Linked DNA regions of Homo sapiens: regions 2, 3 and 4 are each linked to region 1. The links come from fine-mapping of genetic effects on plasma protein levels. A gene starts in region 1. Each other region holds a variant in brackets. All regions are shown on one strand. Distances are from middle to middle.

Region 1 (6,068 bases):
AAAGGCCTGTCCTGACCTCCTGAGAGTACACAGACCATGAGGGCAGGGCAAGGAGGAGGATGCACGCTCACTGTTTCATGCAAAGTCCTTGGCCACAGTCCACCTGCTCCCCACCTCTGTGACTTTGTCCTTCCTCAATTTAATATGCTCTATGCTGGAAAACTGGATTATTGAACAGGCATTGGCTGATGCATTCTGAACCTAATCCACTAAAAAGCACTTGATAGATATATCAAAATATCATTGAGAAATAGATATTTTAGGCCCATATCCATGTCTTCACCCCGCACTGTTTCTCATTTGAACTCTCTTTTCCAGGAAGAGTTGTGCTTGGGTAAATTCTATAGCTCACAGTGTGACTTCAAAACACACAATAAATTAATAAGGTGCTTCCTACAGTGAGTTCAGTTAAACATTTTGAAGAGTGTTTTTGAAATGTAGCAGAGCAGGCTACAATTGATATTCAAAAAGAGGAAACTTCCATTTATTTCCCCCTTTAACTAAGTTACCTGTAACTGTGTCATTTTATTATGCTTCATAGAGCATCACTGCTGAGATCCCCTCCCCAGCTCATGTTGCTAGGAAATATCCCAAAACAGAATCAATTTTTCTTTTTTTAACCTGATGATTTTTCCACAATCCTTTTGTTTCTCTGATTCACCTCCAGGGCTCATATGGCAATGGGGATTTAATAGGGTTTATTTGTTGGTGAAGAAACATTAAACAAATCTTTTAATAGGAAAAATACTTTTATATTATAGGCAAAATGTAGATGTATATTGCTACTGAAGTAAATGTATTTTATTAATGGTGTGAGAATTTCTTCCTCACTGTGGTGTGTGAATGTGTATGCATATTTGCATGTGTAAAAGACTTAGCAATTTGTGAATAGAAGATGTTTCTCCGCTTCTCACTGAGCATGGCTGTAAAAGAAACTTTTTCCTCTCCCCGGGCATTCCAGCACACATTGGAAAGATAACACGTCCACAGAAAGCCTGGCTTTCCAAAAGAGCTTATCAGAGAATGTGCCCCCCAGGTCGATTAAAACATATGTTAATCCTGTGGCAGAGAAGTTTGTTCTAGCCTTTGGGTGTAGCCTGCTGAATAAGTTCACAGTGATCTACATCCTAGTTTCCATGGGCTGAAATAGAATATTCATATCCCCTGCACTCCCTACACACACAGACATAGACACCAATTTCCCCAAAAAACTCTTTGCTTAATCTTCTCCTGCTCTGTATTTTCTTTGATATTTTCTTGAATGGCTTCCACTAAATTCAAATGTGTTTGACTTTAAAGTCAACTTGTAAAATTTTATCTGGTAATTTATAGATTAAATTGCAAGCATCTACCTCCCTTTCATCAGACTCTCCCTGCAGGGCAAGTTCATCTAACTATGTATGTGCTTCAAGATGGAACTCCTGAGTTCACAGGTGATTTATAAACCAAAGCATGCCCACTACAAAACTCTCACCCTCCAGAGATTTGCCTCAAGGGACAACACCCTGCTCACAAAGGCACCAGCAGGCAACTGCTCAACTACCTGGTGGATAAGGTGCCCAAGCTAGCATGGACCCCTGAATCCTTGCTCGCCTCCTCTGTTGCCTTTTAAAAGTGCCACTTTCTGCTCCTAAAGTGAAGTAGTACGGCAGGACTGCTGCATTTCTTCCCCTAAGCTAGCTTTGGAAGCAAATCACTTTCTTTATACCAGACTTCTCTCTTCTTAATTGGATTCTGCAAGTGGCAAACAATTAACCTGCTCTTCAGTTACATTGGAATGTGTTTAGATTTATTTTTTCAAATGTTGGAACAAAGATGAAAAAGTGAGAAGAGCCCTAGATTTTTTCTTGGAAATCTGGCTTAAATCCAGGTTTCTTTATTTCCTTGATTTGGGAATTTGGTCACGAGACAAATAACATGATTTTCCTAAGTCTAGATTTCTTTGTTTATAAAATGGGGATGACTATGCTACCCTACCTATACCATGAGCTAAATAAGCTAGTATTTGTAAAGGACACACACTTACATTCACAATCACACACGGTGTGTATGTGTGTATGTATGTATAAAAATGTGGGGACCTAACCCACTCAACAAATACCCTGAGTATTTGTTGAATCATTATATGCGTATATCATCTGGCAAATGGATGTGTATAATTTCTCCAGGGATAAGAAGCAAATGTATACCGATGGAAAGCCTTACTCAGGCCATAACAAAGAGAGAAATGCTGAGTCCCACTCCATGAACAGGTCAAGGAACCAAACATATTCAAAGAGTTATTTCATTGTTTCAACTTGCTAGTGAGGGGAGCATGGCACCTGAACAGAGATGATATAAATTAATGAAACTGAGAACCAAGCGAAGAGCTTAGCCATCCTTTGCATAGTTAGCTACAATGGCTATTTATTTTTCAGCCAGACTGGCCATCATGTAGGCACACTCTTTTAGATTAGAAAAATCAACCATTATTTTTTCTGCCCATTCATTCCAGCACCGTGACAGTCTTCACGGGGAAATTAAACTTATTTTTTTAAGAATTTTTCAATCATATACAAGATTTTGAACTGGGAATTTCATGAATCAAAAATTAAATGAATTGCACATAAAGCCATGGCATATGTATTTTTACTACATTGTGGGAGAAAAAATAATTCTTATAATTTAAAAAAACTATGTCTTACCTGATTTCAGAAATAAAAGAAGTAGAAGAACCACTTCCTTATGTTCCATTTTGGGACTGGCCAGCAGTGCCCAGAAAGTGTGTCCCAATCCCAGGACATTGTTGACTTACATGAGAGTAAACGCACCCACAAACCAGATAGTCAAATTAAGTTAATGATTCTCTCAGAGACCCATGCCACTGGCTCAGCAGGGTTCAAACATTACCTTGAATATAGAGTCTTATAAAATATTTGAGAGTGCAATGTCAATAGATGCTGGGAAGTGGTGAAAGCCATTTCCCCCCTCAGCTGCTCCACATTGCCTTTATGTCTCCTTACTCCTTCCCTCACCCCTAGACCTTCATCTTTCCTGATTAGTCTTGTTTCCTCCCCTCTTCTTTCATTCTCTTTCTTTTGGATAAAATAAAATCATAAAAGTAGCTCATATTTGCTGGTAACTTCCATGACCAGACCCTCTGCCAAGTGCTGCACATCCATAGCCTCCCTCAAGCTTTCCAACAGGCAGTGCTGTACGAGGAGGGGGCTGAGGCCTTCCCGAGGTTGTGTCGCTACCCAGGGGTGCAGCTGATAGACACAACCCTTTCAGGTCTTAGTTTACGAGCAAGCTAGGTATAAATGTTAACATCTCCACATCCTATACCAAACTGTGCCGAAATGACAACATAAGTGAAAATCTTTTATTATCTTCAAAATTTATTTATTCCTAGTGAACTCACATGTTTTCTGTAATTATAAATTATGTTATAAGATATCAATCCTTCCAGGAGGGGGTGGTGGCTCATGCCTATAATCCCAGCATTTTGGGAGGCCACGGCAGATGGATCACCTGAGGCCAGGAGTTTGAGACAAGCCTGGGCAACATGCCAAAACCCTGTCTCTACAAAAAATACAAAAATTAGCTGGGTGTGGAGGCACATGCCAGTCATCCCAGCTACTAAGTAGGCTGAGGCACTAGAATTGCTTGAACACAGGAGATGGAGGTTGCAGTGAGCCAAGAATGTGCCACTGCACTCCAGCCTGGGTGACAGAGCAAGAATGTCTCAGGAAAGAAAAAAAAATAATAAATACCAAATAAAATTAATAAAATATCAATCCTTCCTATTCTAGTAGTTGTGGCTTAAATAAATAAATAAATATTTTTAAAAATAAAACATAGGGTCGAGTGCGGTGGCTCAACTCTGTAATCCCAGCACTTTGGGAGGCCAAGACAGGTGGATCACAAGGTCAGGAGTTTGAGACCAGCCAGGCCAATGTGGTGAAACCCCATCTCTACTAAAAATACAAAAATTAGCCAGGCGTGGTGGTGGGCACCTGTAATCCCAGCTACTAGGGAGGCTGGAGTATTCACTTGAACCCAGGAGGTGGAAGTTGCAGTGAGCCAAAATCACGTCAGTGCACTTCAACCGGGGTGAGAGTCTCAATAAAATAAAATAAAATAAAATAAAATAAAATAAAATAAAATAAAAGCATAGTATCAATCTTTCCGCAAATGAATTCATGGTGCAATCTTACATTTTCGTTCTCATGAAGTAAAGCAAGAGTGGTAGAATTAAGTGGAAAGAGTCTATCTCTAGTGTAGTCACGTCAGTGGTTGTGTCAAGATGGTTAGGAGGCTCCTCCCGTTTAAAACAGTATCCAAGCCCCAGTTGTAAATCAATTGGGGAGACACGCCAACTCTGATCATCAGCAATATCTGAGCTCCAGTCTCAGATATTGTGTGCAGTTAGTCTCTGTCCTGTACCCTCTACCTCCTTCCCTACCAGAAAAATCACCACTTTAGTCCCTGGCCACCGGGACACCCCAGGAGGGTGAGTGGTCTGAGGTAGTTATGGCACTTATGGCTCCCTTGCTGCTGATCTGGAACTCAAGCCCCAAGAAGTCCCCTTGGATGATCTGAATATACATTTGGGACAGATCTAGGGAGTTTCTGAGCAACACTTAGACTGGGGTCTTCCATTGATTAAATCCTACTTGAATTCGCTACTTTGGGACTCAAGTCTAAGGGACTGAGACTGAGACAGGAGAGCACAAGACTAACTTTGGTCTCTTGATCTTTTCTTACCTTGCAACTGTCAATGCCTCCAGCCAAATGCCCAGCACAGAGCTCAGTGGATTTGACTCTTCCATTCAGAAACTCATAGCGATTGCACACTTCATTCTCAATCACAGGGAGCTGGGCTTCCTTGAGAAAGCCAGCCCCAAAGGTACCTGTGTTTAAAAAGATGAAAGAAATGGTAACTACGTCCACAACATGTTCACAAGGAAACTCCAGAAGAACAGAGCAGTGGTGATGGACCTCCTGTCTGTCCGTGAGGCTGTAGAACACAAGGCAGCTCCCAATGCTGCCAGACTCTCTGAACCCTGGAGAGTGTAAACGTCATATAAGAGTCTATGTTCCAAAAACCTGGATTTAACAATCTGAGCTTTGTCATGGTGCTTTGCGGTTGGTTGTTGTTTCTTTACCTTTTTCTTTGCTTTTAAAACCATAAAGAATAATGTTTAAATGTAGAGTCTGAGAAATGCAATTGCTATTGTTTTTATATTTTCAGACTTTTTGTATGCTTCTTTCACTAATTACATCATATCACAAAATTTCACACCCTGATTTTTTCACTCAACATTACATAATGAGTTTTGTATAGTGCTATGATCTTCATAACTAATATTTTAAAGGAGAGCTACTGATTAATGAGCATGAGGTTTCCTTTGGGGATGAGGAAAATATTCTGGAAATATGATGATGGTTGCACACCACTGTGAATGTACTAAATGCCACTTGGTGGTACCCTGCAAAAATGGTTAAAATAGTAACTCTTACGCTGTGTACATTTTATTGCAATAAAAAAGAATAGTCATCATTTACTAAGCATTATCCTTTCCAGGCACAAGCTTATAATGTGGTGTATCTCACTTCATCCTCACAACAGTCCTATGAAACAGGCAGTTCCATCACTCCTGCTCTACAGTTAAGGAAACTGAGGTGTAAGGAGGTTGTCTAGTTCAACCTGAGCCTGGGTCTGCGGAGTCACTGCCCAAATGCTTCCTCCCCGTGCGCGTTGGCCCCCCTCTTGCTTCCAACCCTCCACATCTTTGTTCATAAAGTTCATTCTTATTCCTTAATATTTTCTGAGCCTAAGTTCCCATAAATTATATAGACATATTTCTGTCTCCCAATAACACTGCCAATTTATTTTCTAGAAGGTTATGACAGTGTAAAATGTCACTAGAAAACAATCACTTCACCACACTTGTATGAGTGTTCAATTTTTAAATATTAGCTAATCTAACAGGTTGAAATTGTCCTGATTCATTTTCTAATTTATACTTCTTTGACAATTTGGGAGAGTGAAGATTCTCCTGGTTGTGTTTATTCTTTTGTGAAAA
Region 2 (6,068 bases), 63 kb before region 1:
CACTATGTGAGCTCTGTCACCTTTATTAAGCTCACTGTTCCCTTGTAGTTGTTGTTCCTCAATATATGGTGTTTTTTTGCCATATTTTCTTGTGGAAAATCTTCTATGCAAGTGCTGCTTTATGTTTAGACTAACACTTGAGGAGACTTCTATGCCTGGAGCTCCTATCCTCCACAAGTCCATTCTTACTCTTAGCATGGCTAGAAAATCCTAACTACCTGAGTAATCCCAAAGTCCAATCACTCTCCTCTGTTCAGCAACATGGCTACAGTCAGCTTGGGCTCCATCTCCTTGCTCTTCAGTGCAGGAAGGGTCTCCTTGAAGAAAGCCAAGGCATTGATGGGTTGATCTCATTTTCTCCCTCTTGCAATACTCTTGGTCCTCTAGCATCTGTTGTTCAACATGTGGAAACCGTTTTGCCGTGTCTTTGGTAGTCACTTATGGCCGAAAGACTGGCCATAGAATGGCCAGATCATGGCTTCTGTCCATCTACCCGCCCCTTTTACTTTTCAGCATCGCCCCTTTGCTGACTCTCATCTGCTTTCCTGCCTTTGTTCTTCTCCTCTGGGCAGACCGTATCTCTTCAGACCACTGGTGCTCAGGACCAAGTGTGTTTGTACCCATTGAAAAAGAAGTAGATAGAAAAAGATTTGCCTCTCCATAGATGTGCAAGTATCAATTCCCTGTGACCCAAGATGCAAAAGGCCAACACAACATTCACTTCAGGGACTAGAGCTTAGAATGATAGAATTCCAAGGTGAAAAGGTTGTATTAACCCTCAGCCGATGTTGTAGAAGGATACTCTAACTCTTTGGTCATTTGTCATCCCGGCTGTTTTATTAATAAGATCTTCTCAACTCCATATATCCTTCTGCTTCCATAAAACTAGGAGGAAGGAGAGCCAGCTTAAAAAATGTCTTCTCAGCCAGGCACGGTGGCTCACGCCTGTAATCCCAGCACTTTGGGAGGCTGAGGCAGGCGGATCACGAGGTCAGGAGACCAAGACCATCCTGGCTAGAACAGTGAAACCCTGTCTCTACTAAAAATACAAAAAATTAGCCGGGTGTGGTGGTGGGTGCCTGTAGTCCCAGCTGCTAGAGAGGCTGAAGCAGGAGAATGGTGTGAACCCGGGAGGCGGAGCTTGCAGTGAGCCGAGATCATGCCACTGCACTCCAGCCTGGGCAACAAAGCAAGACTCTGTCTCAAAAAAACAAAGTCTTCTCTAAGAACTTTTGCTCACAGGAAATGTTCCTCTGCATCTGAGCCAAGTTGAGTCCTGAGCAGTCACCTTGAAGCATGACTCTTCTAACAGAAACTTCCATTGGCCCTTCCTTCGCTTATGGTAAAGAACAAAGACGTACGCATTTGGGTAGTTTTCTGGGGTCCGACTATGCTGGTGTGGTGTCATAGATGACCAAGCTTGGCAAGTTCTTCCTGTGACAGTGGTGGAGTATGTGCCTCGGTAACTCTGTCCATAATGGTAGTAGCAGTCCTGTACCCCGGGGGTTTCCTCAGTCAGTGCTGAAATTAAAACAGAAGACATCAAGCTTATTATTTCCTAGAACAGAAAAATACAGGAAGCCATTTATGACATAAACCAAAAAAGAGTCACTGAGATTTACAACCATTCTCTATTCTTTATTAATAGGCAAATGGACATGAGAAAACACACAAACAAACACGAAAGTAAGAGATGCCTACCATTCTAGAACTGTAGTAAGTTCTTAGAAATATTTCATGTAAAACTTAGTGGAAAAGAAATATCAGATTGCTTCTCATCGGAAACTCCACTAACATGGAAGCTCATTTCTAGGAATCTCTACAGAGTGTTCATGACGACATGGAACAGCATAGAAGAAAGGGTGATGCATTTGGCAAAGCTGAAAAGCAAGTCTCCAAGCATTAAAATGGTTTTTTGGGGAGGAGGCAAGGACATATAAAAACCTTGCATGTGTCCCTAGATGATTGCTCAAAAAAGAAAGCATTAAACTCCTGGTGATGGGGCAGACAACAGTCCTGCAGCTAAAACTGTAGGCAACAACACTTCACTTCTCAGGGATGAGTGGAGGCCAAAAGCTTATCACCTACAATAAGATAGGGAATCCTCTCGTGCCCAGCATAATGCATTGCAATAAAGCAAAAGTCTACTACTCTTTTTCTCCAGACCCCCCGCAGGTACAAGTTCCATCAGAAAGAGGCAAAAGCACACGAAAAAATCACTCCCTTCAAAGCTAAGAACTGCACAACCTGCCTCGGACTGAAAAAGACCTGAGAGATAGAGCTTCGGGAGCTCATGTACTACTCCACAGACCCAGGGAGATATGGAATTAATGCAACCCAGTTAGGTTTCTCAAGGATAACAGGATCTAGAGCCACATTTCTCGGAATCTGCAATGCTGAAGATTGCACTGAATGCTGTCTACTTGAAGAAATCCCTGGAAAAGTTTACTGGCTTGGAAAGACACACACATCTGACAGCATATTACAATAAGAATTTTGTCTAGGACAATGAGATAGCCCCTTTTACAATGAGGGGAGTGGTGAAGTCGAGCACCCAGAATGGTTTCCGCCCATCCTAAAGACACAGCTCGCACAGGTTGCACCAAAAATCACACCTCTGGCTCCCCCAGAGAGTGCGCTAAGGCTTCCTCCCACATGGCAGACCCAGAACCAACACACGAGAACCAGTGTAGCACTGAAGGGTTGTGCGTCAGTGGGGGTATCCATGGCTTTTCATCCCAGCATCCAAGCAGGTAAATGTCTGGCACAACTTCTTACCTTGTTCAAAAAAAGCCTCTAGGCTTGGAGCCAGAATAACATTCGGAGGGACGAAGGCAGTCCATTCTGCATCTGAGCATCGTGTCAGGTTGCAGTACTCCCACCTGACACTGGGATCTGTTGTATAACACCAAGGGGCTGCCACAGGATCTGGATTT[C/T]GGCAGTAGTTCTTGATCAAGCCACTGGAAATTCCAAAAGAATACACATCACAAAAAATGGGTACATATGCAGGAACACTGTATATTTTGCTACAACAAGGTCATTACTGGTGCCTTTGAAATATTCCCAAAAGAGATACCATACAATTGCCACAATGACAAATGGCTCTCAATCTCTAATCCTCTCTGCACATTTCTCATACTTAATATATTATCACTTTTTTTAAAGAAAAAAAATCTAATGCAGCACACACTTCCTAGAAACACTGAGATTATACATACATGTGGCCAAAAAGGGATCAGAATATCCTCCTTCTGCCTTCTGCCCAATCCATCTCTCTGGAATAACTGGTATGGATTTTGACGTGTGTATTGTGGAATTGGTTATGCACATACAAAAGTATCTCTATCTGTCTAGCTCTCCGTATCTCTCTGTGTAGGACTTCATATAGTAATGTGCGAGTTGGAACTAACACATAGTTCTCCAGAGAAAAAAATGGCATCCAGCATGATATCCTTCCCAGGCCAGCAGTCTCATTCAATGTACTCAAAATGTAGCCAAAAGGCTCTATGTTCAGCATGTAAAACCATTGCACAAAAAGTATTCCTGTCTGTCGATACCGTATCAGGTGGGTCAAGTGGGTTTCTTTCTGCAAGACTTCTCAAAGCTGCCCTGGAAACCTAGCTTTCAGGCAGGATGCAGTATCTCTAGGATGGGTTCCTGGTCAGGACTTCCTCTCCTGCTCTCAGTCCATCCTCTGCTGGCCACAGCAATTCCGGGACTGAGGGAATGGGGGATGAGTTGAAAGAACAGTGGCACTCATGGCATAAAGGGAGACAGCTGGGCAGACTATGAGGTCTGAAGAGGTCGGGCAGCTATGGAGGACCTCAGGCTGGGGAAATCTCAGAGCATTCACTCCTCCTTATGCCTCCTAAGAACATTGCTCCAACCTCTCAGAATCCTCCCATTCGTGACCTGTGGCTGCCTGGGAAAACGGGAAATGTATTATGGGCCATGGGGATCCAACACTGTCTCTCTAGAGACTCTACACATGTGACCTAGTCTCAAGCCCAGACCCTCCATTCCAGGAAGCTGGTTCAATGAGCAACTGGATGTGCTCAGAGCTTGAGTACTTGAAAGACTTCTTTTTCTTCCTTGGCTTCCCTCTTTTGGATACATGGAAAATTCTTATTATATAATATCCCTCAGAATTCAAAATTTTATGATTGCTTTAGGATTTACAATATCCCTTTGGACCCACAAATTCAACCTTTCATTAATATTACATACCATCGTGGATAAGGTAAGAAACTTACAATGGTACACTTCCAATTATTCCCCACATGATTTAGTCTATATGTTCAAATTTTTACCTCTACATATGCTAAAGTTAAATATATTGCTATCATTTTGCTTCAAGTAGTCAACTCTCATTTAAAAAGATATAGAAATTTGATCAAGAAAATATTTTGCATTTACATCTACATTTGCCATTTGCTGGGTTCTTCATTACGTGGGCTGCAGAAAGTTCTCCTCTTGAACTATTCTTCTTCTAGCTAATTTTCTTTGGGCAACATCTCTTGTTACACAAGCCTGCTGATTCCAAATTATTAGTTTTTGGTTTATTTATTTGGGGCAGTGCACAATATGCATTTATCCAACATGGATGATCTTCAAGGCATTTTATTGCTGGATGTAGCATTCTCATTTGATCTCTTTTTTTTCTAGTTTATCATTTTAATGATATCCCCTGTTAACTGGGTTCCAGTGTTTCTGATGAGAATGCATTAGCAATTTGTATCACTGTTCTTCTAGCAAGACACAGCTCTTTTTCCTCCAGTTTCTCATGAGATGTTTCTTGTTATTATATCTTTGCCTTCTGACTGTTGAACGGTGATGTACAAAAGTGAATCATACAGTTTTTTTTTTTTTTTTTTTGGAAATTCCCTGTCTGATTCATTCAGCTTCTTGAATCTGTGGTTTTTAATATTCTTCTTATTTGAAAAGTTTTTAGCTATCCTTGCTTCCAGTATTTGTTCCTGTAGCAATCTCTCCTTCCTCTCCTTCTGTGACTTCCTACCCACATGCAGGAAATCTTTTTATATTTTCCCGCCTGTCTGTGAGGATCAGTGGATTTCATTTTTTAGTATTTGTGGAGGTGTGTGTGTGTGTGTGTGTGTGTGTGCGTGCATGTTTCTAAGCCTGTGCATGTGTGAGTATGTGTGTATATGTGTGTGTCATTTGTGTATGTGTAGCTGGTTCTGTAGGTGGTATAAAATTGTTTTTCAGTTAGTTTTTACTTCTGAAACATCTCACTCCATTGGGAATACATCCAGTAATTTTTTCATTTAAGACATACCTTCTTATACTAGTTCTTTAATTTAATTTGGCTCTTCTATACTGTTACTGTCTCTTGATATGGTATCTGCTTCATTCCGTATTCATGTTTTCTTAAAACCTAAAACTCAGTTGACATATTGATATGTCAAATTTTTTGCCATTCTAATCATTTCTGTCATTTCTAGGTCTATTTGTATTGACTGATTTTTCACCTGGTCATGGTTCATACTAAAAGCTTCTCTATGTGTAGTCAAGTTTTAAATTTAGAACTCACACTGTGAACACCACATAGCTGAGCCACTTGACTTTGTTGTTTACCTCTAAAGAGGGTTTTCCTCTCCCAGGCAGTTAATTGACTTGGAAATGATTTTAATGCTTGGAGACTTGCTTTTCAGTTTTGCCAGGGTTTGTCTAGAGCTGCCTTTTTTTCTAGAAATTTACTAATTCTACTCCTAAAGTATGACTTTTCTGGAGTCTCTACTGTATTCCCAAGAGGTTCAGTGAGGTCTCTCCTCCAGCTGGTCAGAACTCCAGTATCCCAGAATGCTATGAGGGCTCTGTCCTCTTTATTGAGCTCACTGTTCAATCGCAGTTGCTATTCCTCAGGATATATTCTTTTCTCTACTTTCTTGTGGAACCTTTTTCTGGGCACATGCAACGTCATGTTTAGCCAAAGATTCGAGGAGACTACTATGCGTGCCCCTGGAGCTCCTTTCATCCACAAATCCATTCTCATTCTCAGCAGGCCTATAAAATCCTAGCTACCACAGTAGTCCCAAATTCCAATCTCT
Region 3 (6,068 bases), 79 kb before region 1:
TCTAAAGGTGTTATTTCATTGTTTCTGATTTTATCTTGTTTTCCTTCTTACCACTCTGAAGGCGTTATTCTGTTGTTCCTGATTTGATCTTTTTTTCTTTCTTACACTCTAAAGGTGTTATTCCATTGTTTCTGATTTGATCTTGTTTTCCTCCTTACCACTCTAAACGTGTTATTTTGTTGTTTCTGATTTGATCTTTTTTTCTTCTTACCACTCTAAAGGTGTTATTCTATTGTTTCTGATTTGTGTTGTTTCTGATGAGAAGGCATCAGTCATTTGTGTCACTGTTACTCTATGTAAAGGTATGTTTTTTCCCTTGGGCTTCAAATAAGATTTTACTTTCTATCTTTGATTATGGACAATTTAATTATGATGTGTCCAAATAAATCATACAGCTTTACTTTTTAAAATCCTATATCTGATCCATTGAGCTTCTTGACTATGTGAGTTTATCATTTTTTCCATATTTAGAAAGTCATCAGCCATCACTGCTTCAAGTATTTTTTCTGTTCCAATATCTCTTTCCCTTCCTCTGTGACTTGCTTTAAACAAATATTAAATATTTTGATATTTTCATAGATGTCCTTGAGGCTCTGTTTATCTTCTCAGGCTTTGTATAAGCGTGCTATGGTTTGCACCACCCTAATATTTTCTAGTTAGCTTTATCATCTGTACTATCTAATATGATTATAAGGCCATGTAGTGATTTTCTCATTAAAGAGATGTCTTTTTTTTCAGTTCTTGACTCTCCATTTGGTCCTTTTACAATTTTTCTTTCTGTTGATATTATCCATTTATTTATTTCTTGTCCACGCTTTCTTTAAATCCTTGAACACAATTATGATACATACATTTTAAATCTCCTTGCCAATTCTGTTATTTTTATCATTTTTGGGTCTATTTGTATTGACTGATTTTTCTCCTGGTTATGGGTCACACTAAATGCTTTTTGTATGTTTAGCAAATTTTTAAATGTATGCCACACATTGTGCATACTATATAATTGAGCAATTTAATTTTGTTGTTTACCTCTGAAGAGGTTGTTTTCTTCTGACAGGCAATTAATTTACTTGGAGATCATTTGGATCTTTTTAGACTTGGTTTCTAAGCTTTTCTAGGGTGTTTCTGGAGTAGACTTTATTCTAGGAATGCATTAATTCTACTCCTGAAGTATGGTTTTTTGGGGTCTTTGCTGAATGCCCAAGATGTTCAATGAAGTGTCTCTCCTCAGGCTGGTCAGAGCTCAAATACCTCCCAGTGCTATGTGAGCTCTGGCATCTTCATTGAGCTCACTGTTCCCCAGCAGTTGTTCTTTCCCCAGTAGCTGTTCTTTGTTCTCCTTTCTCTCTGGAAACTCTTTCTGTGCATACACAGCTTTCTGTTCAGCCAGAGACTTGAAGAGACTTCTGTGTGTATTCCTGGAGCTCCTTTTCTCCACAAATACTTTCTCATTATTACCTAACCTAGAAAATCTCGGTTTTATTAGTAAACAAAACTCCAGTCTCTCTCCCCAGTTTAGCAAGACTGCTGTGGAATGCTTTGGTTAAAACTCTTTGCCCTTAAGTCTAGGAAGGGTAATTATGGGGTTGATCTTATTTGTTTCCCTTTCTAAACTATCTCAGGTTGTACTGTCTGCTGTTCAACATGTGCAAACAGTTTTTCCATATTATTCATACTCACTTATGGCAAGAGGCCAGTTTTTGTCAGACATGCATTTTTTTGTCCATGTACCTGCCCATTTTAATCACCACATCTGTTTACTTCCTGACTCTCATCTGCATTCCTGCTTTTACTCTGCCTGACAACCCATATCCCTTCAGAAAACTGGTGCTTAGAACCCAGTGTGTTCATACAGGCTAGTACTCATATATAAATATATGCACTCATTTCTATTTTCTTCTTCTTCTTCTTCTTCTTCTTCTTCTTCTTCTTCTTCTTCTTCTTCTTCTTCTTCTTCTTCTTCCTCCTCCTCCTCCTCCTCCTCTTCCTCTTCCTCTTCTTCTTCTTCTTCTTCTTCCTCTTCTTCTTCTTCCTCTTCTTCTTTTCTTCTTCTTCTTCTTTTTTTTTTTTTTTGAGATTGAGTCTTGCTCTGTCACCCAGGCTGGAGTGCAGTGGCATGTTCTCGGCTCACAGCAAACTCTGAATCCCAGGCTCAAGTGTTTCTCCTGCCTCAGCCTCCCAAGTAGTTGGAATTACAGGTACCCACCACCATGACCGGCTAATTTTTTAATTTTTCGTAGAGATGGGGTTTTGCCATGTTAGCCAGGCTGGTCTTGAACTCCTGACCTCTGGTGATCTGCCCGTCTTGTCCTCCCAAAGTGTTGGGATCACAGGCCTGAGCCACTGCACCCAGCCTGAATTTGTTACTTCTGATTCGTGTCAAAAATGGCAAACACAAATTTCACTTCAGGGAATGGAGGATAGAATGATAGAATTGCATGGTTGAAAGACTGCATGGACCTTTAGTGGGCATTGTGGAATGATACTTTGTCTCAGCATTTGGTCATTTGATCTCCTTAGCTTTACATTAATGAGACTTCACCACCTCCATATATCCTGCTGCTTCCATCAAATTGTTATGAAAGATAGCAATCCTAAAACTTCTCTTCATTCAGACCTTTTGCTCAAAAGTAAGTTTCCTGAGACATTTTGCTACAAACTCTGAGTCTATGAGAAATTTGGACCTAGGAAGTGAGCTTGTAGCATGGGCCAGCTAAGAGAAATTTTAGTTGACTATTGTTCCTTTTATGGCTAACATGATAGACATA[C/T]GCATTTGGATAGTATAATGGGATCCTCCGATGCCAATGTGGTGTCATAGACGACCAAGACTGACATGTTCTTCCTGTGATAGTGGTGGAGAGTGTGCCTCGATAACTCTGTCCATCACCTCGGTAGCAGTCCTGGACCCCAGTGCTGTTTTCAGTTGGTGCTGAAATTAAAAGAGAAAATCAAGCTCAGTATTGCCTAGAAAAGGGAAATGTGAAAAAAATTATGACACACAAAGTGGAATAATCTGAGGATTAACAATTTACACTCTTCTATATTAGCATGCAAATTGAAATGTAGAATAAAAATACAAATAGACTTATAGGATTCTAGAAATTTAATAAGTAGTCATAAATATTTTAATTCAACCCTGGAAAACAAACAAACAAAGAAACAAACAAAAAACAGATCAGAGTGCCTATACTTCAAAATTACACTCATGTGAATGGTCTTTTGCTTACACCTCTTCTGGGTGTTCATGAGAACAAGGCAGGAGACCAGGGTGCCATGCATCAAGCTGTTCAGGCTATAGGTGGTGATTGGCTGTTAGTGGGGGGTATACATGAAACCCTTGCACACTAGACCACTGCTCCTCCAAAGCAAAAGCCTTCAGATTCTGGGGTGTGGGGCAGAAAAGGATCTTGCATCTAGGACTTGTAGGTAAAGACACATTGCCTCTCAGGGAGAAGGAGTACAGGCCAAAATTTTATAGCCTAGGAGGGGAGACAGGGAATCTTGGGCCCAGGATCCCTCATTACAAGAAAGCTGACATCCACTACTCTTCTTCTCAAAAAACAACGGAGATAAATGTTCCATGAGAAGCAGGGATGAGAACACTGAGAAATCCCTTCCCTCAAATCCTAGGTGTGGAAGGCATGCCCAAGATGAAGGTAGGCTGGGGAGATAAACAATTTGGTGGCTATGTACTGCTTCAAAGTCTCAGGACAATACGGATCTAATGAAGACATGTTAGGTTTCTCAAGAACAACAGCCTCAAAAATGGCATTCCTTCAAAATGGTAAAGCTGAAGACTGCAATAAACACTGCCTACTTGAAGAAAGGGCTGGACAGGCTTAGGAGCTTGGTATATCTTCACAAGTTTGGCAGGATGTTAGAATATCCATCTTGGCTAGGACACTAATATGATTCGTTTGATAACAGGGAAGTGATAAATCCAGTGTCCTAGAGGGTCTGTGCCCCTTTTAAAGACACCATCCCTCACAAGGCACTCAACATCCCAGCTCTGGTCCCCCCAGAGAAGGCACTGAAGCTTCCTTCCCATTGGCTGTCCATGACTTCACCTTCGACTTCCTGTGCAGCATGGAAGTTTTCTGCATCACAAAGATTTTGCAAATCTTTTTATCCCAATGTCCGAGGGTATGGTTGTCTGACTGCAGGCTTCTTACCTTCTTCAGAAGGAAGCTCTGTGCTTGGAACTGGGACCACCGTGGGAGTTGTGAGGAGAGTTGATTCCATCACTGGACATTGCGTCAGGTTGCAGTACTCCCATCTGACACTGGGATCCATGGTATAACACCAAGGGCGAATCTCAGCATCTGGATTCCTGCAGTAGTTCCTGGTCAGGCCACTGCAAATTCCAAAACAATACAGGTCACCAGAGATTGGAGAAGATACAGCACCACCTGGCACCCTCTATGTTTTCTTGTAACAAAGTGTAAACAAGCAAATTTGAAATATTCTCACTAAAGTCCCATAACACTCACAAATGGTCCTCAACTTCTAAACAACTGTCAACATTTCAAAGACAGCTTATGATTCTTATTGTAACACATTCAAAGTAATCTATGCTTTATAAGAAAACTGAGAGAAAACATCAATGTGTACCAGAAAGGATCAGAATACCCTCCTTCTACCTTCTGCCAAATACATTCCTTTGGATTAACCGAGAGGGATTTTGAAGTGTGTCTTGGAGATTGTTTCACGTACATACAAATGTTTATCTGTCAGGCTGTCTGTAAGTCTCTATAAAACTGCATGATCTATTCAGTGTTTGATTTGCTGATTTGTTATTTACCTAAGCAATCCATCCACATGATCTACATTCATGAATTTATTTACATACAGTTGATCTCAATATCTACTTCTCAGCTTTCACACCTGGAGGATGCTATAGCAATGGCATCTCTCTCCTGTTACTCATGATGGTGATGGATATGCTCCCTCCTTGGTCTGTCATCTGTTTAGCCAGACTTTGGCCAATCATATAGACTTTTCAAAGAACCTAACTTTCTGTTTCATGGATTTACTCCTTTGTTGGTCTATTTTCTTTTCCACTGAATGTCATTGGTTTGGACTATTTCCTTCCATCCTCTTTCCTTGTGCCTTATTTGCTTTTCCTTGCCTAGATATTTAAGCTGTGGTCTTAGATCAACAGCTGTCAAAGCTGTTGTTCATAGGAACCCCCTTTTTTTCTTTTTAGCTTTGAATTGAGGCAACTTAACTATGATATATCCCAGTAAATCATAGAGTTTTGCTCTTTAAAATTCTATACCTGAGTCATTTAGCTTCTTGACTATGAGTTTCTTGTTTTCTGTATATTTGGCGTGTTGCGAGCCATCATCGCTTCAAGTATAATGTCTGTCATGATATCTTTTTCTTCTCCTTCTGTGACTTGCCTAACACATATATTAAATGTGTGGATTTTTCCTAGATGCCCTTGAGGCTCTGTTGATTAATAGGTTCAGTCTTTGTGTGTGTGTGTGTGTGTGTGTGTGTGTGTGTGTGTGTGTGTGTGTGTTTCTGTCTGTTGGTCTGTCTGTCTGTCCTGTGATTTGTGTAGCTCCTATTGAATTATTTTCTAGGTCACCTTTCCTACCGTAATGTCTAAAGTGATGATAAGGCCATCCAGTGAGTTCTTCATTAGAGATGTACCTTTTCTCAGTTCTTTAATTTTCATTTGGCTCTCCGGTTCTTTTCTTTTCTCTTGCTATTCTGCTTTTGTTTCTCTCATGGTCAGCTTTTGCTGACATTTTCCTGAAACACAGTTCTCAGAGGTGCATTTTAAATGTTCTCACCAATGTCATCAATTCTATAATTTCTGGGCCTGTTTGTGTTGAGTGATTTTTTCTCCCAGTTATGTATCACAGTGAAAGCTTCTTGTGTCTCTATTAAATTTTTAAATAGAAGTAACGCAATAGGAATGCCATATAACTGAGCAACTTGTATTTGTCCCTTGCCTCTAAGGGGGGTTGAGTTTTTTTTTTCTTGTGGAATGCAGTTAATTTACTTGGAGATCATTTGGATCCTTTTAGACTGGCTTGGAAGAAGGGTTGTTGGAGTTT
Region 4 (6,068 bases), 72 kb before region 1:
TTAGCTGGAAGCATGGCTCTTCCAGGAGAAATTTAAGTGGGTGGCTGTTTCTCTTGGGAGAAAACTCAAAGACATACCCATTTGGGTAGTATTCTGTGGTTCTCTGATGCCAGTGTGGTGTCATAGAGGACCAAGACTGACATGTCCTTCCTGTAACAGTGGTGGAGAATGAGCCTCGATAACTCTGTCCATCACCATGGTAGCAGTCCTGGACTGTGGGGCTTTGCTCCGTTGGTGCTGAAATTCAAAGAGGAGAAAACAAACTGAGTAATTTCCAGAACACAGAAGCATGAGAAAAAAAATCCATGATAGAAACAGGACATCATCTCTGAAAATGACGACCATGCTCTGTTCTACATTAGTAGGCAGATGGACATGCCAATAACAAAGCTCAAAGATTCATAGCATTCTGGAACTTCAATGAGTTTTTAGAAAGATTTTCTTTAAAACCTGGGCACCAAAGGACAGATCAGAGTGCCTATCAGTCAAAATTGCACTCATGTGCCTGTTCTTTGGCAAAGATCTCTTTTGGGTGTTCCTGAGAACAAGGCAGGAGACCAGAGTGCCATGCATCAGGCGGTGCAGGCTGTAGGTGGTGGTTGTCAGTGGGGGCAGACATGAAACCGTCACACATTTCTCCAGAGCACTGATCCTCCAAAGCCAAAGCCTTAAGTTTCTGGAAGATGGGGCAGGAAGTGGTCCTCCATCTAGGACTTCCAGGCAAAGACACATTGTCTCTCAGAGAGGGGTACTGGCCAAAATTTTATTCCCTTGGAGGGACGGCGGGAAATCTTGGGCCCAGGATCCTGCATTGCAACAAAGTAGACATCCACTACTCTTCTTCACAAACAGCAACACAGATACGTGTTCCATGAGAAGGAGGGGCAAGAACACTAAGAAATCCCTTCCATCAAAGCCTAGGTGTGCAGCACCTGCCTAAGATTAAGGTAGACAGGGAGATAGAGCATTTGCTGGCTATGTACTGTTACCTAGACCCAGGAGGATATGGAACTAAGTAAAGTCATATCAGGTTTCTCAAGGATGACAGACTCAAAAACCACATTCCTCTGAAACTGTAAAGCTGAAGTTTGCAATGAGTACTGTCTACTTGAAGAAATACCAGGAAAGGCTCATGATGAGCTTGGTAAATCATCACAAATTTGGCAGGATGTTAGAATATCCATTTTCACTAGGACACTGAAATAATCTATTGAATAACCAGGGGAGTGGTAAATCCAGTGCCCTAGAAGGTCTGCACGCTTCCTAAAGACACCACCCTGTCACGGGGTGCCAAAAATCTCAGCCCTGGTTCCCCCAGAGAAGGCGCTGAGGCTTCCTTCCCATTGGCTGACCCTGAGTCCACATTCAGATTCCCGTGCAGCATGGAAGGCTTCTGTATCACTAAGATTTTGCAACTCTTTTTATCCCAACGTCCAAGGGTGTGGTTGTCTGGCCAGAGACTTCTTACCTTGTTCAGAAACAGCCGTGGACGTCGCAAGGACACTTGATTCTGTCACTGGACATTGTGTCAGGTTGCAGTACTCCCATCTGACATTGGGATCCATGGTATAACACCAAGGACTAATCTCAGCATCTGGATTCCTGCAGTAGTTCCTGGTCAGGCCACTGCAAATTACAAAACAATACAGTTCACCAGAGATGGGAGAAGATACAAGGGCACCAGACATCCTCTACATTTTGTTGTAACAAAGTGGTAAAAAGTGACTTTGAAATATTCTCACTAAAGGTCCTGTAACAATCACAAATCGTCCTCAACTTCTAAACAACTGTGAACATTTCAAAGACAGATTATCATTCTTATTGTAACACATCCAAACTCGTCTATACTCCATAAGAAAACCGAGAGAAAACATCAATGTGTACAAGAAAGGATCAGAATACCCTCCTTCCACCTTCTGCCAAATATGTTACTTTGGATTAACTGAGAGATTTTGAAGTGAGTCTTGTAGATTGTTTTATGCACGTACAAATGTTTCTCTGTCTGGCTATCTGTATGTCTTTCTATAGGAGTACCCAATCTATTCAGTATCTGGTTTGCTGATTTGTTGTTTACCTAAGGAATTGATCCACATGATCTACATTCATGAATTTATTCACATACAGTTTTTCTTGATATCTTCTTGTCAGCTTTCAGACCTGGAGTATGGTATAGCAATGGCTCCTCTCCCCTGTTACTTCAAATGGTGATGGTTGTACTCCCTCCTTGGTCTGTCATCTGTTCAGCCAGACTGTGGTCAATCACATGAATCTTTTCAAAGAACCAACTTTCTGTTTCATGGATTTACTCCTTTGTTGGTCTATTTTCTTGTTCACTGAATGTCATTGGTTTGGACTATTTCCATCCATCCCCTTTCCTTGTGTCTTATTTGCTTTTCCTTGCCTAGATATTTAAGCTGTGGTCTTAGATCAACTGTCAAAATGTTTGTTCATAGGAACCCCCTTTTTTTCTTCTTAGCTTTGAAATCAGACAATTTAACTATGATG[T/C]ACCCCAGTAAATCAGAGTTTTGCTCTTTAAAAATCTATACCTGAGTCATTGAGCTTCATGACTATGAATTTCTCATTTTCTGTATGTTTGGAAATTTGTCAGCCGTCATGGCTTCAAGTATAACTTCTGTCACATTATCTTTTTCCTCTCTTTCTGTGACTTGCCTAACACATATATTAAATGTGTGGATGTTTTCCTAGATGTCCTTGAGGCTCTGTTGATTAATTGGTTCAGTCATTGTGTGTATGTGTATTTGTGTCTGTCTGTCTGTCTTGTGGTTTGTCTAGCTTTAATTGAATCATTTTCTCGTTCACCTTTTCCTACCATAATATCTAAACTGGTTATAAGGCCATCCAGTGAATTCCTCATTACAGATATAACTTTTCTCAGTTTTTAAATTTCCATTTGGCTCTTCAATTCTTTTCTTTTCTGATATTATGCATTCATTTCTCTCATGGTCAGCTTTTGCTGACATTTTCCTGAAACACAGTTCTCAGAGGTGCATTTTAAATGTTCTTGCCAATGCCATAATTTCTATTATTTCTGGGCCTATTTGTGTTGAGTGATTTTTCTCCCAGTTATGGATCACAGTGAAAACTTCTTTTGTGTCTAGTAAATTTTTAAATGCAAGTTGCACTCTGGGGATGTCATATAACTGAGAAACTTGTATTCGTTCCTTACCTCTAAGGAGGGTTGAGTTTACTTTTTTCTGGAAGGCAGTTAATTTACTTGGAAATCATTTGGATCCTTTTAGACTGGCTTGGAAGAAGGGTTGCTGGAGTGTTTCTGGAGTCACCTTATTTCTAGGAATCCGAAGATCCTACTCCCAAATTATGGCTTTCTTTGACCTCTACTGAATGCCCAAGATGTTCAGTGAGGTGTCTCTCCTCTGAGTGGTCAGAACTCAAATATCCCCCAGTGCTATGTGAGCTCTAGCATCTCCATTGAGCTCACTGTTCCCTTGCAGTTGTTCTTTCCCCAGTAGCTTTTCTTTATTGTTCTTTCTTTGTGAAAACTCTCCTTGTGCATACGCAGCTTTGTATTTAGCCAAAGCCTTGAGAAGACTTCGGTGTGTATTCTTGGAGCTCCTTTCCTCCACAAATCCCCTCTCATTCTTAGCCAGCCTAGAATACGTCAGATGCCTGAGGCATCACAAACTCCAGTCTCTCTCCTCAGTTAAGCAAGACTGCTGTGGTCAGCTGGGCTCCATCTGCTTGCCCTTCAAGGGTCTCAAGGAAGGATGCCAGGGACATGATAAGGTTGATCTCCTTTGATTCCCTTTCTGAATTTTCTCAGGCCTGTCATGTCTGTTGTCCAACCTATGAAAACACTTTTCCTATGTATTTGATAGTCCTTCATGGCAGAAACGCTGACGTGGTCTGAACTGGGTTTCTGTCCATCTTCCTGCATGTGTAACTCTTCAGAATCTTTATACTTCCTGACTCTCAGCTGCCTTCCTACTTTTGCCCCTCATGTGCTGGCAACACATAGCTCTTCAGATACCTTGTTCTCAGAACCCAGGTACAGGTTAGAGGAGAAAGTGATTGGAAGATCTGGATGTCAACATAGATATCCTTTATTTGTTGCCCAAGATGAACATGGCTAATACAACCTTCACTTCAGGACTTGGAGATTAGAATGACAGAAATCCCTGGTTGAACTATTGCATTGGTCTTTAGTGGGCATTGTGGAATGGTGCTATTTCTAAGCACGTGGCCATGTGTCCTGAGCTTTCTATTCATGAGAACTCACCACCTTCAAATATCCTCCTGCTTCTGTCAACTATGAGAAAAGAGAGCTGGCCTGACATTTCTCTCCTTTCAGACACTGTGCCTGAAGAAAGAAGCCTGAGACATTCTACCCAACATTCCAGATCTGAGATAAATTTGTCATAAGAAGTTAGTTGGAAGCATGGCCCTTCCAAGAGAAATGTAAGGGGGCTGCTGTCTGTCTTTGAAGAAAACTCAAGGTTGTACCCATTTGGATAATATTCTGTTGTCCTCTGATGCCAGTGTGGTGTCATAGAGGACCAAGACTGACATGTCCTTCCTGTGACAGTGGTAGAGAATGAGCCTCGATAACTCTGTCCATCACCATGGTAGCAATCCTGGACCCCGGGGCTTTGCTCCGTTGGTGCTGAAATTCAAAGAGGAGAAATCAAGCTGAGTAATTTCTAGAACACAGAAGCATCAGAAGAAATCTGTGACTGAAACAGGATCATTGTCTCTGAGAAAGACTACCATGCTCTGTTCTGTACTAGCAGGCAGATGGACATACCAATAATAAAACCCAAAGATTCATAGCATTCTAGAACTTTAACGAGTTCTTAGAAAGATTTCCTTTAAAACACAGGCACCAAAGGAAAGATCAGAGTGCCTATCAGTCAAAATTGCACTCATGTGCATGCTCTTTAATATAGACATCTTCTGGGTGTTCCTGAGAATAAGGCAGGAAACTAGACTGCTATGCATCAGGCTGTGCAGGTTGTAGGTGGTGATTGACTGTCAGTGGGGACAGACATGAAACCGTCACACATTTCCCTAGACTGCTGATCCTCCAAAGCCAAAGCCTTCAGCTTCTTGAAGATGGGGCAGGAAGCGGTCCTGCATCTAGGACTCGTAGGCAAAGACAAATTGTCTCTCAGAGAGGGCTACTGGCCAAAATTTTATTCCCTTGGAGGGATGGCTGGTATCTTTGGCCCAGGATTCTGCATTGCAACAAAGTAGATATCCACTACTCTTCTTCTCAGAGACCAACACAGATATATGTTCCATGAGAAGGAGGGGCAAGAACACTGAGAGATCCCTCCCATCAAAGCCTAGTTGTGCAGGACTGGCTTAAGATGGAGATAGGCCAGAACGATGGAGCATTTGTTGGCTATGTACTGCTACCTGGACCCAGAAGTATATGGAACTAAGAAAAGTCATATTAGGTTTCTCAAGGATGACAGACTCAAAAACCGCATTCCTCCGAAACCGCAAAGCCAAAGATGCAATGAACACTGACTACTTGAAGAAATACCATGAAAGGCTTATCATGAGCTTGGTAAATCTTCACAAATTTGGCAAAATGTTAGAATATTCTTCTGGCTAAGACACTAAAATGATCCTTTGAATAACCAGGGGAGTGGTAAGTCCAGTGCCCTAGAGGGTCTGCACCCTTCCTATAGATACCACCCTTTCACAGGGTACCAAACATCACAGCTCTGGTTCTCCCAGAGAAGGCGCTGAGTGTTCCTTCCCAGTGGCTGACCCTGAGTCCACATTCTACTTGGAATTGTGTGAGCATGGAAGGCTTCTATATCACTAAGATTTTGCAACTCTTTTCATCCCAACGTCCTAGGGTGTGGTTGTCTGGCCATAGACTTCCTACCTTCTTCAGAAGAAGCCTCTGTGCTTGGATCTGGGACCACCGTGAGAGTTGCAAGGACACTTGATTCTGTCACCAGGCATTGTGTCAGGTTGCAGTACTCCCACCTGACACTGGGATCCATGGTGTAACACCAAGGGCGAATCTCAGCATCTGGATTCCTGCAGTAGTTCCTGGTCAGGCCACTGCAAAT

Which allele goes with the higher level. Positions count from the first base shown, and alleles are read on the strand shown. Strength reflects both the effect of a copy and how common the allele is.
As copies of T replace C in region 2, the plasma level of the protein whose gene starts at base 2,794 in region 1 goes down (moderate association).
For the plasma level of the protein whose gene starts at base 2,794 in region 1, C is the high allele of the variant in region 3 and T is the other (strong association).
With allele C in place of T in region 4, the plasma level of the protein whose gene starts at base 2,794 in region 1 is higher (strong association).

What was found. PIP is the posterior inclusion probability: the model's chance that the variant is causal. The UK Biobank Pharma Proteomics Project read protein levels with antibody pairs (Olink). The fine-mapping took linkage between variants from a reference panel, not from the people measured, so its PIPs are less certain.
Region 2: its variant is fine-mapped to the plasma level of the LPA protein (UK Biobank, PIP above 0.99). The variant lies in the coding sequence of LPA. If it changes the protein, the assay may bind it differently, which can mimic a change of level.
Region 3: its variant is fine-mapped to the plasma level of the LPA protein (UK Biobank, PIP above 0.99).
Region 4: its variant is fine-mapped to the plasma level of the LPA protein (UK Biobank, PIP above 0.99).

The regions. Positions count from the first base shown.
Region 1 is chr6:160,661,482-160,667,549 of GRCh38, forward strand. LPA (lipoprotein(a)) reads right to left here and starts at 2,794. Exons shown (of 39, transcript NM_005577.4): 1 at 2,685-2,794. The coding sequence starts at 2,733.
Region 2 is chr6:160,598,139-160,604,206 of GRCh38, forward strand. LPA (lipoprotein(a)) reads right to left here. Exons shown (of 39, transcript NM_005577.4): 19 at 2,779-2,960; 20 at 1,362-1,521. Among named protein-coding and RNA genes, the nearest start is that of LPA, 63 kb to the right of the region's middle. The variant C/T (reference allele first, on the strand shown) is at 2,937.
Region 3 is chr6:160,582,277-160,588,344 of GRCh38, forward strand. LPA (lipoprotein(a)) reads right to left here. Exons shown (of 39, transcript NM_005577.4): 25 at 4,173-4,354; 26 at 2,770-2,929. Among named protein-coding and RNA genes, the nearest start is that of LPA, 79 kb to the right of the region's middle. The variant C/T (reference allele first, on the strand shown) is at 2,769.
Region 4 is chr6:160,589,476-160,595,543 of GRCh38, forward strand. It overlaps LPA (lipoprotein(a)), which reads right to left. Exons shown (of 39, transcript NM_005577.4): 21 at 5,879-6,060; 22 at 4,483-4,642; 23 at 1,469-1,626; 24 at 78-237. Among named protein-coding and RNA genes, the nearest start is that of LPA, 72 kb to the right of the region's middle. The variant T/C (reference allele first, on the strand shown) is at 2,506.